Homo sapiens: one gene and its partner. The protein of the gene in region 1 interacts with the protein of each later gene in a pairwise test. Each region holds a gene or a part of one and is shown on either strand. Other genes may lie near its edges.

The links.
Region 2: the proteins of TBC1D16 (region 1) and RGS17 interact in a two-hybrid assay, tested with the Homo sapiens proteins (one large-scale study listed by BioGRID).

Annotation. Positions count from the first base shown.
Region 1 is NC_000017.11:80,025,724-80,029,545, reverse strand, and holds part of TBC1D16 (TBC1 domain family member 16), read left to right. Parts: intron 1-3,441; exon of another isoform or gene 3,442-3,735; intron 3,736-3,822. UniProt on the Homo sapiens protein: May act as a GTPase-activating protein for Rab family protein(s).
Region 2 is NC_000006.12:153,121,126-153,124,947, reverse strand, and holds part of RGS17 (regulator of G-protein signaling 17), read left to right. Parts: intron 1-3,822. UniProt on the Homo sapiens protein: Regulates G protein-coupled receptor signaling cascades, including signaling via muscarinic acetylcholine receptor CHRM2 and dopamine receptor DRD2.

The DNA of each region.
Region 1 (3,822 bases):
CTCATGCCCTGTGAATATTTGCTAGAGAAGACCCACCCCCACTGCTCACACAGTGAGTCACCAAATCTTTGGCTGTTCCAGGCCAAGTTTCAGTGGCCAAGTGGCTCCTAGGGGACGGGAAGGGAACATGTGTGGTTAACAGCAGGCTCACAGCTGCGCCCTGTGTCAGCTCCAACCCAACAGCCTGGCCAGTTCCCAACAGCATTGTGAAAGAATAGATCTGCTGCCCCTCTCCTCCCCTGCCCGCCCCTCTCTCCTTAGGGCTTCTGAGGTTTCCCACGTCTTCACCTTGCAGGCAGCTCCCCCTACTCCAGCCCCCTCAAAGCGCTCTCGTCCTGGAAGCAGACTTCAGCTACCTTTATCACCAGTTTAACACCCCTGCCAGCTGCAGGTGCTGCGACTCCATGCTTCTCAATGGTGCTCTAATTCTTAAAGAGTTGCAGGTTTCTGGGAAAGAATGACTCTCTGGTGGAGGAGTTTCTGCACAGTTTTTTGTTTTATGAGCCTGTGTATTTTTGTTGAGGAATGGCCAAGTTGTTCTTTCCTTTCGAATTACACAATGGCCTATTTTGCAGAAATCTGGCCCTACCTACTGGTCACCAATGGCTTTGAGCAGCACAGAAATCAACTGGTCGGCTCGGGGCGGTGGCTCACGCGTGTAATCCCGGCGCTTTGGGAGGTCGAGGTAGGCGGATCACGAGGTCAGGAGATTGAAACCATCTTGGCCCACATGGTGAAACCCCGTCTATACTAAAAAAAATACAAAAGTTAGCTGGGTGTGGTGGCGCGCGCCTGTAATTCCAGCTACTCTGGAGAATTGCTTGAACCCAGGAGGCGGAGATTGCAGTGACCTTAGATTGCGCCACTGCACTCCAGCCTGGGCGACAGAGCGAGACTCTGTCTCAAAAAAAAAAAAAATCAACTGGTCATCATGCCCCGGTCTGATGGTTTAGAATCAGCATTGACGCTTTTACTTTTTGCCTTCTAAAATCATTCTTTTTTTTCTTTTTCTTTTTTGAGATAGAGTCTCGCTCTGTCACCCAGGCTGGAGTGCAATGGTGCCATCTTGGCTCACTGTAACCTCTGCCTCCTGGGTTCAAGCGATTCTCCTGCCTCAGCCTCCCGAGCAACTGTGATTACAGGTGTGTGCTACCATGCTCAGCTAATTTTTGTATTTCTAATAGACAGGGTGTTACCATGTTGGCCAGGCTGGTCATGAACTCCCGACTTCAGGTGATGCAACTGCCTCGGCCTTCCAGAGTGCTGGGATTACAGGCGTGAGCCACTGCGCCCGGCTATTCTTTTTTTCTTTTCTTTTTTTTGTACACTCAAGCTGATGCAAATTGTAGATCTTGGCTTCAATCCATCTGTGAATTCTTTGTGCCAACTGCCAAGTTGGCATTGCTATCCTTTCCATCAACAAAAACAAGGCATTTGGAACCTTAACGAAGATGGCATTCTGGGAGGCACATTATAAAAGGAGCGTCTCGGAGGTGTCATGCACTCGGGAGCTTATTATTGAAAACACAAACCAACAAGGACATCACCGTTTCAAAATACAAATGTGAAGTGGATGCATTTGAGGAGAATGGGGGGTTCTTATTGTCAAGGATCTACCCTTAGCTGCTTCTCTTTTTTTTTTTTTTTTTTTTTTGAGTTGGAGTCTTGCCGTGTTGCCCAGGCTGGAGTGCAGTGGTGCGATCTCAGCTCACTGCAACCTCTGCCTCCCGGGTTCAAGCAATTCTCCCGCCTCAGCCTCCCAAGTAGCTGGGATTACAGGCGCCTGCCACCATGCCCAGCTAGTTTTTGTATTTCTAGTAGAGACGGGGTTTCGCCATGTTGGCCAGGCTGGTCTCAAACTCCTGACCTCAAGCGATCTGCCGCCTCAGCCTCCCAAAGTGCTGGGATTACAGGCATGAGCTACTGCACCCGGCCTCTTTTTTTTTTTGAGACAGGGTCTTGCTCTGTCACCCAGGCTGCAGTGCAGTGGCGCAAGTACAGCTCATTGCAGCCTCAACTCCCAGGGTCGAGCGATCCTCCCACCTCAGCCTCCTGAGTAGCTGAGACTATAGGCACAGGCCACCAAGCCTGGCTAATTTTTAAAGTTTTTTTGTAGAGACAAGGTTTCTCCATGTCCCCCAGGCTGATCTCGAACTCCTGGGCTCAAGCGATTCTCTTGACTCAGCCTTCTGAGTATCTGGGACTATAGGCACATGCCACCATGCCCAGCTAATTTTTGCTTTTTTGTAGAGACGGGGTTTCACCATGTTGCCCAAGCTGGTCTCAAACTCCTGGACTCAGGCGATCCGCCCACCTCGGACTCCCGAAACTGTTAGGATTGCAGACATGAGCTACCGTGCCCAGCCTCCTCAGCTTCTCTATCCATCTTCATCTCTCAGGATTTGGGGAGGGGATTTGTAATAATTGCCACAAGGTGCTTTGAGCATCTTGCATTGCTATTTTGATTTTGATGAACTCTGAGTCCTTCCTATAGATTGGAAAAGCCTGGTGTCTGTTCTTTGCTGCAGGCCTGTCTCAGCTCCCTTTCCAGTGTTCACTCATTTTGTGTCTTAGGAGTTCTGCTGGCTGCCCCCGCCTCTGTTCGTGTACTGATGAGAAGGCATCTGGCCCCTAGGAAGAGCCCCAGGCCCGCAGAAGGGAACCTGGATGTCCCCCTTGCTCTGAGTTCCATACTGGGGCAGCCTTCCTGACATCCAGCTTCCTTGCCTCCCAGGACGAATGGTTTTCTTTGCCCCCCTCAAACCCCGCAGGACTCCAGGTCCCTAAGGTCATGGGCATCAACTGCTCCACACTGCTGTGGGCAAGGGCCATTCAAAGTCTTGCATCTTGCAGATTCAAGGACATTAGGAAACTCTCCCATCAGACAACTTGGGCTGCCGGCAGCTGGGTTCTCAGTCCAGGAACCAAACGTTGTCTTTGACTCTGCTCTGTTCAGCCTGCCTCTAGTGCCTGCCTGTTCTCGGCATTGGTCCACACAACTCCACCCTCGTCCACGCCTCCTCCACACCTCTTTGGATGCAAGCTTCCTGATCTCAAGCCTCTTTTTATTTTAAACTAATAGATTCCCCCCTCCCCCAGAAGATGATGTTTGTTTGTTTTGGAGAGAGAGTCTCCCTCTGTCACCCAGGCTGGAGTGCAGTGGCACAATCTTGGCTCACTGCCACCTCTGCCTCCCGGGTTCAAGTGATTCTCGTGCCTCAGCCTCCTGAGTAGCTGGGATTACAGGCGTGCGCCACCATGCCTGGCTAATTTTTGTATTTTTAAATTAGCGATGGGGTTTTGCCATATTGACCAGGCTGGTCGTGAACTCTTGACCTCAGGTGATCCACCCGCCTTGGCCTCCCTAAGTGCTAGGATTACTGGCGTGAGCCACCATGCCCGGCCGCCCCTTTCTTTTTAGTATTAAATAATCCTCCATTATTTAGGTGTATCACAGTTTATTTATTTATTCAGCTGTTGGAGAACATCTCGGTTGCTTCTGAGTGTTGGCAGTTATGAGTAAAGCTGCTCTCAACATCCGTGTGCAGTTTCTGCGTGGCGGACTTCATTGTTTAGAGCAGTTTTAGGTTTACAGAAAAATGAGCAGAAGGTACAGAGTGCTGTATGTGAGGAGATAGGGGGCGGGGGGCCACTGCTTCCCTGTGGGGCTTCCTGTCTCATGGATTGAGAGTCCTTAAGGAGGCCTGGACGCCATTCTCTGTACCTCTGTTCCTGCTGTGTGAAGAAGGAACCGTGTGACACCGACAGGTGAACCTTCCAGGGTCCCTGGGTCTTAGGGACACAACCAAGGGACAGAAGTGG
Region 2 (3,822 bases), on another chromosome or scaffold:
TGGTGTATTTATGATAAGTCATGTAATCTACAGATTTTATGAGTCAGTTTTGGCTCTTGGTAGACGACCCTATGTCCACGTCCTATTACCCTAAACTCTCCTATTTTTTCAGGATTTGATTAATCAAACTCAACAAATATTTGAAAGTTTGCTATTTGAAACACAGCAATCCATATTATTTAATTCACATGAAGTAAAAAAGCTTATGGAAAATTGCCCTTAAAAGAAGGAGACTTTAAAAGCAGAGAATGTAATTTGGTGGAAAGAGCCCAGGTTTTAGATTCAAATAACCAGGGATTTAGCCTTCACTTCTTTGAGCCTTAGTATCATTATCTGTAAAACTGAAGACAATTTAAAAATGTTAAAGGATTAAAAGAAATTATGTCTATAAAATCTTTCATATATTGGTACTCAGTATGGAAGTGTTAGGTATTGTATTAGACTTAATAAATCAAAATAGGTACAAGAAACATCATGTAAACAATAAGGGCTTGAAGGGGTTTTAATTTCGTGCCAGTATTTGTCTTAACTAATTGGTCCTTATTAATGTTTAGGTTGTTCTCCATGTATTTCGTGTGTTATCCTTTCCTGACTAGTTTGTTTCACCAACCTGCTTACAAACATATTTGAGCACCCACTATGTGCTAGGCTGTGTGATATTTTTGGATACAAAGATTAATTAAACGTGGCCCCTTTCCACAAGGAGTTCACATATAAGCTTCTTCAAGTTATTTTTCTTTTATCTAGTGAGTACTGGTCATTCTAAGCTTTGAAGTCATAGCTAAATACAACATGGGAGTAATAGGCAATGATTTCCTTAGGGTTTAGCAATAGACCAATTGATCTCAAAATTTAGGAGCCTCTACAACTAATGTTCAAGCAAGCTGCTAAGCAGAGACTCAGAGATAAGGGGAAGAAAAGCAGGAAGTGGCTCTGTTGGTGGATGATTTAACAACCTCCACCATAGTATCAGAACAACAACAGACTGGAGGCTTAACCCTCTTTGTGAACCGACCTCAACACCCAATTCCTTCTCATTGAAATAAAGAAAATGTGTACATACATCTGTACTATGCCTTTTCCCCTCTCACTTGTAGGCTACCCTGCGTAATCATTGTAATGTAAGATATTCTAAAACGCTGGTGTAGGGGATGAACAAAAGGGAAGGAGAGTGAGATCCCTGCCCTTCTTCCGGGTCCACATTTCCCATGCACTAGCAATATTTTAGAATTTTTTCCTGATACTGCTGCAGTTCCATCTTTGATTACAATCTGTTTATAATATAGTACCTTGACCAAAACCCCAGAATCCTCAGTTTGGATGAAGAATAAATACATTTAAGTTTGAGAAAGAAAACCATCTCCAATATCAACTTGTTAAAATCACTAGGGCAATTTCTAAATCTAGCAGTTAGATTTGCTCCGATCTGGAAAGATTTTGTATGATTTATAAGATCAGAGTGAAGACTTCAAACCCGTTCTAGAAATATGTGATGAATAGATAGTTAATATATCTAAGTATGGAAATGAAAGACATTGACATTAGGAATGAATTAACTTGAAGGTAAGCTCAGCACTCCTGTCAGCCACTACATTTAACATTCTTGTCATTAAATCTTTGACCGGGCTCTTAATAAGTAAAAATGTATGCTAATGTAAGATTTGAACCTATTTCTTTCTCAATTTATTGCCACTCAGCACTACCATACAGTAATTTACCTGTGACCTATGAGTTTAGTATGATCAAAATTCACTAGATAAAAGCAAAGGAAAACTAGTGTCTTTTATTAGGGCACTAAGGCATAGACATGCTATAAAGCAATACAATGACCTATATAATTTACAAACTATTATGATTAACTGAATGCCGTGTTGTGAATTGGAGTATTAAATACTCCAATTTACTCCAGTGTACATTGGAGTATTAAATACTCCAATGTACTCTGATGTACTCCAATGTACTCCAATGTACATTGGAGTATTAAATACTCCAATTTACTCCAATGTACATTGGAGTAAAAGGCTTCATTGTGAATTGGAATACTAACATTTTCCCTACCTACTGTTTGGGTGAGGCTTGACATTTGATTTTCCCCACACTCTCTTATGATTATTATTGTTATTAGTATTTCTAAATAGATAAATTGAGGAGAAAGGAGCATCTTTGCTTTTCATACATCTAATAGTTCATAGAAAAATAGGTGTTTACTCATATTTTATGTAATTTTAGGATATTTACATAATTTTGTTGCCTGAAATTTAAAACATATCAAGAGCTCAAATGTTCTATCTGCCAGGAAAAAACAAACAAACAAAAAACCCTACTGTCTTATTTTCTTCTGGTAGGAATAAACTGCCCTGATTGTAATTTCTATGCTAGTTTATCAGTAAATAATATTGGCAATTTTGACTCAAGCTATTGGAGTCCATGTTTTCTTCATCTACTCAAGTCCAGTAACTTCAATTTTCACTGATGAAGAAACATTTTAAACTAAATTACTTTCAGTAAATTCAATGTCTAATGACCCACCTATGTTTATATAAATGATGGATTTAGTTGAAAGTTACATTTATTTATCATTTTGAGTACTCAAAACCAAACAATAGAGAAATCCTTCCCACACTGGAATTGTCTCCAAAATGTAATATTTTGAAAAGATGATTTTATGTGTCAATGTATGCATATATGTATGTTTCCCCTTTTATTTATGGGAAACAACTGATATGGTGCCTACGTAATCATAGCCAAATATTCAGGAAGAAAGGATACATACTTGAGAATAGAGGGGGAGGCACAAATGAGATGAGAAGGAGAGTCAAGTAAAAAGCAGGAAGGCTGGGCTCAGAAAACAAGACTATTAGTTAAAAACTCATTATATCTTAAAGTATAATATCATTCAATACGTTATTATGTAACTCTGCTATATTATGTAACCACTTCCAGTTTTGTGAATTCATGTGACCTAATCTTAAGAAGGTAATTTTTTCCCATTAATTCAGTAATTTCATTGACTGAACATCTGGGTAATGCAAGTGGGGTTTCGTAAGGTAGAATTCCATTAAATAAATGTTAATTCCAGGAAGGAAAAAATGTGAAGCCCTTTTCTTGACCTAACATAGGTTATGTTAAATAGTTTAAAATTCTCGTAGGTGATACTGAAATTCAATCACATTGATAAAGAATCTATTCCCAAGTTTTCTTTCTAAATGCAACTATTTCGAGTACATCTTATATAAAATCAACTGTATCTTTGTGATGTAAAGACCTTTATGTCTTGTTTCAAAATAACAGCAGTGAATAAATGTGTATGATAAGCTTTTTATTTTTATTGAGCAACAGGACATTGCAATGACTTAATATCTAAAATATTTATTAAGACTTTGGGGGAGTAACAAGTGAGCTTGGAAAAGCTTGTCTGCTCATTGCCACTGAGATTATTTTTAAGAGAATGTGGATTTATGGCTTAGTAGGATCACTGAATGTAGTTACTCAGTGAGGTGGCTGATTGCAACCAAAATCAACTTTGGCACTTGGTGTGCTGGCCTCTGACTGTTGCCCCCAAGAGAGTTCTAGTCTGGTTAGATTTTAGGGAAAAAGAAATAGGTTATGTTCCTGAAAGTAGAGTTCAGAGGATACAGTCTAAAATGTTATGTTAGAGAGAGGCAGCAACAAAGGAAAGAGAGAAAAGTCTTTCGGTGCATTGGTAAATACAGCCTGTGTGGGTCTGAATTTCCAAGTGTTTGCATTAGATTTCCAAGTTTTCTTTAGTTTCTGCTACTCATCAGTTTTACCTCTTCTGTTTTCTGCCTCCTTTTTCTTAAT